Regions from separate parts of the Homo sapiens genome. Here all the other regions are linked to region 1. The links come from fine-mapping of genetic effects on gene expression. A gene starts in region 1. Each other region holds a variant in brackets. All regions are shown on one strand. Distances are from middle to middle.

What was found. PIP is the estimated chance that this variant, and not a neighbour inherited with it, causes the effect.
Region 2: its variant is fine-mapped to the expression of PJA1 in adrenal gland (GTEx, PIP 0.97).
Region 3: its variant is fine-mapped to the expression of PJA1 in thyroid (GTEx, PIP above 0.99).

What each region holds. Positions count from the first base shown.
Region 1 is chrX:69,164,053-69,166,811 of GRCh38, forward strand. PJA1 (praja ring finger ubiquitin ligase 1) reads right to left here and starts at 1,401. Exons shown (of 2, transcript NM_001032396.4): 1 at 1,320-1,401.
Region 2 is chrX:69,024,148-69,026,906 of GRCh38, forward strand. No RefSeq gene overlaps it. Among named protein-coding and RNA genes, the nearest start is that of PJA1, 140 kb to the right of the region's middle. The variant C/T (reference allele first, on the strand shown) is at 1,216.
Region 3 is chrX:69,215,633-69,218,391 of GRCh38, forward strand. No RefSeq gene overlaps it. Among named protein-coding and RNA genes, the nearest start is that of LINC00269, 37 kb to the left of the region's middle. RefSeq lists an enhancer at 1,582-2,081. The variant G/C (reference allele first, on the strand shown) is at 1,408.

The DNA of each region.
Region 1 (2,759 bases):
TTTGTGTGTGTGTATGTTAGTCAAAATGGGAGGCAACAATGGAGAAATGTCAGTGTGAGCAAATGCAGCAGGCACAAATGGAAGCGGGGGTGGGGGGTGCGCAGCACTGGAGAGGGATGTGCTTGAGGTGGATGGAACAGAGGCAGGCAATCAAAGAATGATGCCTGCCTGTGTGGATATGGCAAGCAGGGAGGCAGGTTGTGTCCCCGTAGAAGGATTTATGTGAGTGCGAGTGTGTGCACCTCAGGGACCAGCAAAAGAGAGCTGTGTCTGACACACGTGGCAGACAGAGCAATAGAGGAGAGCATTTGAGAAGGGGGTATGAATGAGCACATGTGGCTACATATGTATGTCACTGGCCAGCGATAGAAGGATGTCCTTATGTGTGTATATGACAGGAAGGAAGAAGGAGGGCAGCCGGAGGGGGTGTGTGAATAGGCATGTGTTCGCGAGAGCACGCAGAGGCCGAGCAGGGAGGGGGCCGGTGCTAGAGGTGTGTATGTGGTAGGCGGATAGAGGAGGGGGAAGGCATGGGAGGGTGTGAGGGTGTGAGGGTGTGTGAGAGGGTGTGTGCTGCGTGTGCCTGCGCATGCGCGGGGGAGGGGAAGCACTGGAACCTTGAGGATGGAGGGGCAAGGAGGGGGCTGCAATGGAAGGCTTCTGTGCGGGGGCGCGTGCTCGCGACACACGGGGGGTGGGGGGTAGGGGGGACGCAATGTCATAAAAAGAGGTGGGAAAAGGCCATCAGCTCAAACGGGAGACCCCAACCGATGTGGCAGGGGAGAGGGAAAATGAAAGAAAAGGGCGTGCGTGGGTCTAGTTTTCCCTGAGAATAATTATTTTTTCCTTCCAATTTTTTCCCTGGGAACAGTATTTTTACCTAAAAATCTTAACCATTTACCATTTGGCAAAACAACAGCAAAATATGGGAAGAAAGGCCACGGAGTGCTCCGCAAAGGGGCCGAGGAGGGAAGAAGGAAGGAGAGGGGAGGAGAGGCAGGGAGAAGTGGGAGAGGGCCGCGACCACCACTGCCCTCCCAATAGCGATGAAAGCCACTCGAGTGGGGACCGCGCCACACCAAAGGGGTTCCGGCAGCGGAAGATGTGGCCCCAGAACAGGCCGATGGAGGACATGGGCCTCACTCTGCAGTCAGGTCCCGCGTCCGCCCCACCCCTTCCCGAGGGGCGAACCTGAAAAGCAGTTCCCAGGAACCCCCCAAAATCCTCGCCCCCGTGCCCGGCCACTCGCCCCGCGCCCGGCCACTCGCGCCACCGCCAGCGCCCGGATGAATCGAGGAAACAATCAGCCTTTCACTCACCAAGTCCAGAAAGCCACACGCTTTTCAGAGAAGCAGAGCTCTCGGATCTCCGACCGCCACGACCGCCAGAGCCGCTGCTCCCGGTCCCGAGCTCCTCCCCCGCCAGACAGCAGCGGGGCGGGCGGCGACTGCGGCGGCGGAAGTGATTGTGAAGTCAGCTGGAGCCCGCCTCCTTGATGTGGCGGGGGCGGCAGCTGCTCTCCACAAATCAGGGTGGGCCCGAAAGCATTATTTCATCTTAAATGATGAAATCGTCAAGGATACAGAAAAGGACAGCGAAAAATGTCACAAACACCCAGCTTTAACTAATGTTAAACATTTAGCTATATTGCCTTCTGGTTTTTTAATAAATAAAATAAAATCTGCAAATTCTTTCTGATTAAGTCCAATGTGAGAGTAATTACGTTACTACATCACATCCTATGTTACGTGTTATGGTTGTACCGAAAGTATTAAAACTGTGAAACCATATTTAGGGTTGCAGTAAGCTTAAATTTTTTTTAACCTGATGGTTAAAGCAAATTGAAGCTGTTTATGTTGAATTTGTTGCTGCTAATCACAAAACCAAGCTTCTCTGTCCAAGAGATCATAGGACACAACACAGGTTCATATTCTGTTATTGCATTGCAGTTAAAAATATTGTAGTTACGCCTTTTGGATTTATACCATTTTACTGAATTCTGAAGTCTTTAAATTGCGCTTTATAATGGAACTCTAGTATTTACAGCCAATGTAAACATTTCCCATGTTCACAACAGTAGCAAAGTTTTGTTCTTACTGGAAACAAAATGCATAATAGAACAAAAATCTTAGGGGTAACAACATAATAGAAATAAAATGTATAACTTTCAAACCATTAAAGTAATAATATGTGGAACAAAGAGAAAAACTCATTCTTAACAAAGGTCAAGAAATGTTGCTGGGGGGGTACAAAAAAAAGGATGCAAAAAGAAAACAAAAATGCAGGAATCCAAATATATCAGCATGCATTATGGGTTAACATCTCCTAATAAAAACCAAACTCTTATTTTGAGCATTTTGTTTTTAAAAGCTAAGTTATATTCTATTTATGTGAGTTTCACCTAAAGCAGAAATAGGAATAAAAAATATATGAGAGTAAAATACTAGCAGAAAAAAGGGAGAGAGGGAATGAGGGAAGGAAAGAAGCAAAAAAAAAAAAAAGGAAGGAAAGGAAGGAGGAAACAAACTCGTAACAATATCAATATCCTAAACATCGAGAACTCAAAGTAAAAAGAACTAAAGAGAACAAAACAGGTTGCTTTATTCACTGAGAAAGATATGACAAGCTGGTGGTGTGTGCCTGTAGTCCCAACTACTTAGGAGGCTGAAGCAGGAGGATTGTGTGAGCCCAGGAGGTTGAGGCTGAAGTGAGTGAAGATCACGCCACTGCACTCCAGCCTGGACAACCAAGCAAGATGC
Region 2 (2,759 bases), 140 kb before region 1:
ATTTCTGTCATGACAAAGACCTCCAAAGGTCATCTTATCCATCCCCCAGGCTCCAGACTAGAAAATTTTTCTTTCAACCTGGTTAGTCAACCCTTTCCTGCCATGCTTATGCATTCTGGTCTCAAAGAAGGCACCGTGAGTCCCTGTGCTCCAGTGGTATTTGTTTTGGATGCTGGGAGCCATGTATGCCGGCTTCTAAGAGCGGAATGGGGATCCTCCGGGGAAGGTGAGAATGGAGTCACGTGGCAGAGCCAGCAGGGCAGGGGGCACCCGGGGGCCCAGTGCCTCTCTCCTGCTAAGGATTGACTGCCTCTGCCTTTCTGGCCGCCTGCCTGCATCTCAGTTTCTAAGCAGAGCCTGGAGCCTGGCCTAGGGAGCAATGCGAGTCCCAGCCCAAGGCCTTCTGAGAGCAGCAGAGCGGAGCAGCCCCAATCAGCCTTTGGCTGCCTTGCTTCCTGCAGGTGGAAAAATCATCCTATTTATCCCCAAATGGATTTGTCGACTTGAACAACAAACAGACACAGAAACACACATGGAGTCATAGACATATGTGCAAAAATGGATCCAGAGATGCACATACAGTCTTTATGTCTGCCTCTCTCTCTCTGCCTCTGCCTCTCTGTCTCTATGACTTTGTCTCTGTGTCTCTGCCTTTGTCTGTCTCTGTCTCTCTTTCTTTCCCTCTCCCTCTTTCAACTCTTTCTCTCACTCACCCTTTCCCAAGGCCCCTCCTGCCTGCATTACAGCATTTATCAAAGTGGCCTGACCTCATGTTGTAAAAATATACAGCATGGAACAAAATCCACCTTAAACTCTCTTCTAAATATATTAAAATAATAGGAATTCTCATCTGCCTGATTGAATTTGCTGCTTGATATTAGAAGCATGCCAGGCCCTTCCGGGCCCAGTCAGGGGCAGGGAGGGGCTGGGATTCCCTGCCTGACTCCTCTCTCTTGGCCAACAGCTCTGCTCCTTTGGGTGGGCGGGGCCAGAGTGAAGGAGTTGGAGCTGTGTTCTGGCCAAGAGACCTTGGGCGGCCACCTCAGCCAACAGCCAGCAGCTAGCACAATCCACTGAGCACGTGCAGACAAACACTGTGATTTCTCTGGCCCACACAGCACCCCATCTTGGTCTGGAAGCTGGGAGCCCCTGCCCCTGCTCCCATCTGCACCAGTGCTCACAAGCCGTCCTGGAGGGACTCCCGGGTTTCGCTAA[C/T]GGCCACATCTGTGGCCCATGGGACCAGAAGCTTCTTGAAGGCAGGGACCATATGTTGCTCTTTTCTGTATCACCAGGATCTAAAATGTCCTGGTACAAATAAAAGCTTAGGGGAAACATTTGTTGAATAAGCAGATTAATTCATTTATTCATTCAACTTATATTTATTGAATACTTAGTAAGGGCCCAGTGCTGATCTAAGCACTGGGAACACAGCAAAAAAAACAAATAGATGTCAAATCCTGCCTTCATGCAGCTTTTATTCTAATGAATAAATAAACTGGCCCACTCAGCCCACAAGAAAAGATAACCACCACCCTGGGTCATGCTTCCCCTCCAGGTCTCTTGCTCCTTCATGGAGCAAACCATCCAACGTGCAAAATCTTATACTCTGCTTTTCAGAGGTACAGCAGATGCCTCATCATGGCTTGCTCAGGACTTGGATACCAGCCTACTGGCAATTTAGGGCAACACTGTGCAGGCAGAGGAAAGGATGGGGCAGGGGCCTGGCATGAGACTCCCATACTTGCTTAGGATGGGGGCTGGGGAGTAGGTCTGACTAGCGGTGAAGGGGGCTCCCTGGTGGACAAAGTTTGGTGCCAAAGGGCAGGGGCACAGTCAACAGTGGGCCTTGAGGTTCCAAGAGGAAGTAGTCACAGGATATTAATCAGATGGGGCAATGCTGCTGCAGGGAGTCAGCTACAGTTGGATTTAGCGTCTGGAAGAAGAGCAAGTGTCATGTAGAGAAGGGCCCCAGGGTGGAATGCGGAGAAATGAAAGGTTGGTACAAGTAATGTTGTGCTGGTAAATATTTAACAGCTTGCTCACGGGGAGGGGAAAAAAATCTCTGATTTGTAGTGTTGCCAATTGCCATGGTATAAATACTCCCACAGTGGCTGAATTCAAGCTATGAATATGACATCACTGGATACAGCTTTGTAAAGAGATATGCACATGCAGTTCTCATGAGCCAATGTGAGCCTTGGCCTGGGCTGGGGGTCAGAATCAGAAATTTATTTATTGGAGGGGGACTGGCCAGTAGATGGAGGATGAGTGGTGACTGAGGTTGCTTGTGTCATACGGCCTCTGCCTGCACTGGCTTGGAGATCTGTAGGCTGATTTGACACCTGCAGAGGAAGGAGAATACGAGTGGTTTTGTGTGTGTGTGTGTGTGTGTGTGTGTGTGTGTGTGTGTGTTTGTGTAAGTGACTGGGGGTCATGGAGAAATACTGATAATTTTGATCCTTAAAATGATAGCCAGTCGGGTTCAGTGGCTCACACCTGTATTCCCAGAGCTTTGGGAGGCCAAGGCAGGTGAACCATTTAAGCCCAGGAGTTCAAGACCAGCCTAAGCAACATAGCAAGACACTGTCTCTACAAAAAAATAAAAAAATTAGCCAGATGTGGTGGCATATGCCTGTGGTCCCAGCTATGTGGGAAGATAGCTTGAGCTAAGAAGGTGGAGGCTGCAGTGAGCTGTGTTTGCACCACTTCACTCTAGCCTGGGCAACACAGTGAAACGCCATCTCATTAAAAAAAAAAAA
Region 3 (2,759 bases), 52 kb after region 1:
GCCATGGCCTCTGGGGGTGAGAGAGCCAGCGCGGGATTATGGGCTCCTCGCTCGGAAATGATTGGTCGTGACAAGCTCACTGCAGGAACAAAGCCATGTGAAATTGACCTCATCACCAGCGATCAGATCAGATTGTTTAGTGTGAGGGGAATGTGAGGGGGTGTTCAGCTAGGCGATGACCTAGTTAGGGCCTTAAAGAGGCAGAGCAGCTGCCCCACTCTGGGGAGACAGAGGCAAGAGGCCTCCCAGGGGAAGCCCCCACTGAGCTGCAGGTAGAGGAAGACCCATTCCCATGCAGGCCTTTCAGCATCTCCAGAGGGTAGCTGAGCACCTGGGCTAGGGTCTAGCCTCAGGGGACTAAGGGACAGTGATAGAGGGGGCCAGGGTAGGAAGCAAGGGCAGAGTTCCTATACTTGTCCAGGGAGATTAATGAGATAGAGCAAAAACTGGGGCAACTCGGAGGGTAGAAGTTGGGGAGATCCTAGGGGACAGGAGTTGAATTTATTTAACAATTATTTGTTTATTTACTACACCTCAGATGCTATTCTGAATATTTTACATATATTAACTCAACCCTCAAAACAACCCAATGAAGTAGATACAATTATGATGCCCATTTTATAGATGGGAAAAACTGAGACTTGCGAATCTATTATGTGGCCCAGCCTGGGCTGTCTGGTTCTGGTGTCTGTGCTATTAACTGCTGTATTCTACTGCATTGCCTCTCTTTGACAGGGTTGACCAAATGTGGCAGGCCAGATAGAAACTAGGAGGAGGTTCCCAATGCCTTTGAGGCCTTTCTTTCCTATCAGGCCCTAGGGGCACCAGGAGGCCCAGAGGCTGGGGCAGGGAAGAGGGGTCCTGTCGGGAACTTCAGGAACAGGTGCCTGTTTTCTCCTTGGATCCTGTTTCCTGACACTTGCTTGAGGAACCAAGAGGGGAGGGAAAGCAAAGGCACATGTGGTCAGCTGGGCAGAGCAGGCTCCTTTCTGCCAAGTGCTGCCTTAGGGAATATGATTTCTGCTGCCTGAGAAGTATAGAGGGATGCCAGAGAGGGGGCAGGACTTCTGGTGGGCACATGGTGTTAACTCTTTCATCTCTGATATGTATGCAAAAAGCTTAGCACAGGGCCTGGCACAGAGAAGTAAGGCACTCACTAAATGTGCAACAAACAGCAAAATCCACTGGGGGTAGGGCCAGAGCAACAGCTGCAGCATGAAGGATCCTGGTTGGCTTCTGGGAATCATTCCAGGGAGACCAGAAATCTCCCCTTGAGGGCTTGAAGCATAGAGAGACCCCTGCCACCCCAAGGAGTTTGGAAGCACCTGAGGCCAGTGCCTGGGTGGAATCTGCTGGGAGTTGCAAGTGTGCCGCTCTGATGGAAGTTGAGGGGTAGATACAGAACTG[G/C]TCTGGCCAGGCTAGGCTGGGCCCCTTCCTAGTTTGGTGCAAGCTGAAGAGCCCAGGCTGGCAGGATCTCAAGACTTCGTGCCTGCTCGCTAGGAAGTATGTGGCTGAAAAGCACTCTTGCTACTCCCGGGCGCTGGGCTGAAGGAGCTGACTCAATGCTCTGTGCCTCTCTTCTTACAGGGCATCCAGTCCTGAATGTGCCCCCAGAGCAGGCCTCTCTGCTCTCTGGCTCTTGGCTGCCCAGTTCCCTGGGCACCTGAGGTCTCCTGTCAAGGGCTTTGGGTCTCAGGCAGGGACGGGCCAGCCTGCCTCCTGCCCTGGCCTTCTTTCCAGCTGCCTGCCTACTGTCCCTATGTCCTCAGGCTGGGCCAGTTTCCATTCCCCCACCTTATCTCAGACTGAGGTGAGGTGGGACATGACCTGGTGGGACATCATTTCTGACCAGTAGCCCTTCCCTGGAATATTTCTGATGCTCCTGCCAACTCCCTCCCCAATTTGGTTTAGGATAGGGATGCCCTCTCCCAGGATGCAGCACAACTACAATGGGTTGGAGGGCCTCTCATTCTCTCCTGAGAGCCCACATTGAGAGAATGCAGGCAGAAAAGGACCTTAATTCTTCGGGGAGACCTCTGAAGGACTGCCAAAGGGCAGAGGGAGCTGGAGTGACCTGGATGATCCCAAGGACCACAATTAAGACCTGTGGGTGGAAGCCACAGAAATAGTGATTTTAGTCCACTTCCAGAAAAGACCTCCTGTCAGTTTGAGCTGTTCTGCAAGGGGATGGCTGAGTCAGGGCCTATCGATACCCCCGTCCCCAGAGGTTTGGAAGTAGAGGCTGGATGGACAACCATGACGGATGCTGTAATAGGGCCTTTGAAAGGAGGGTGGGACTATTCTATCCCCATGTCCTTCTCTGTGTTTTTTGTTGCAATTGCTACAGCCCCATGGGATGTTGTCCTCTGGTCAGCTCCCCTCAACAGAATACCTATGCAAGTTCTTGAAGTTAAAGACAAACAAAAAGGCCAAGAGCAAATTCAAGACATGGCTTTGGGGTGGAGGGAAAGAGAGGAGGAAAGAGACAAGGAGAAAATAAAAGTGTGGGGTGGGGGGCAGCGCAAGAGCAATGACAGAGAAAGGGAGATAGATAAATAGAAAAAGGGCCAGAGACATCAAACCAGAGGCAGGGACAAAGTTGGAGACGGAGAACTGTTTCCTGGACTTCATTCTCCTTTGTCTCCAGCCCAGTGGCATTGAGGTTTCTGAGGAACATAGCTGACCCCTAACCCTATATGTTGCTTCAAAAGTGAAGGAGTGGCCCCCAAGGGCAGCTGTGCCAGTTGCATTGGTCAAGG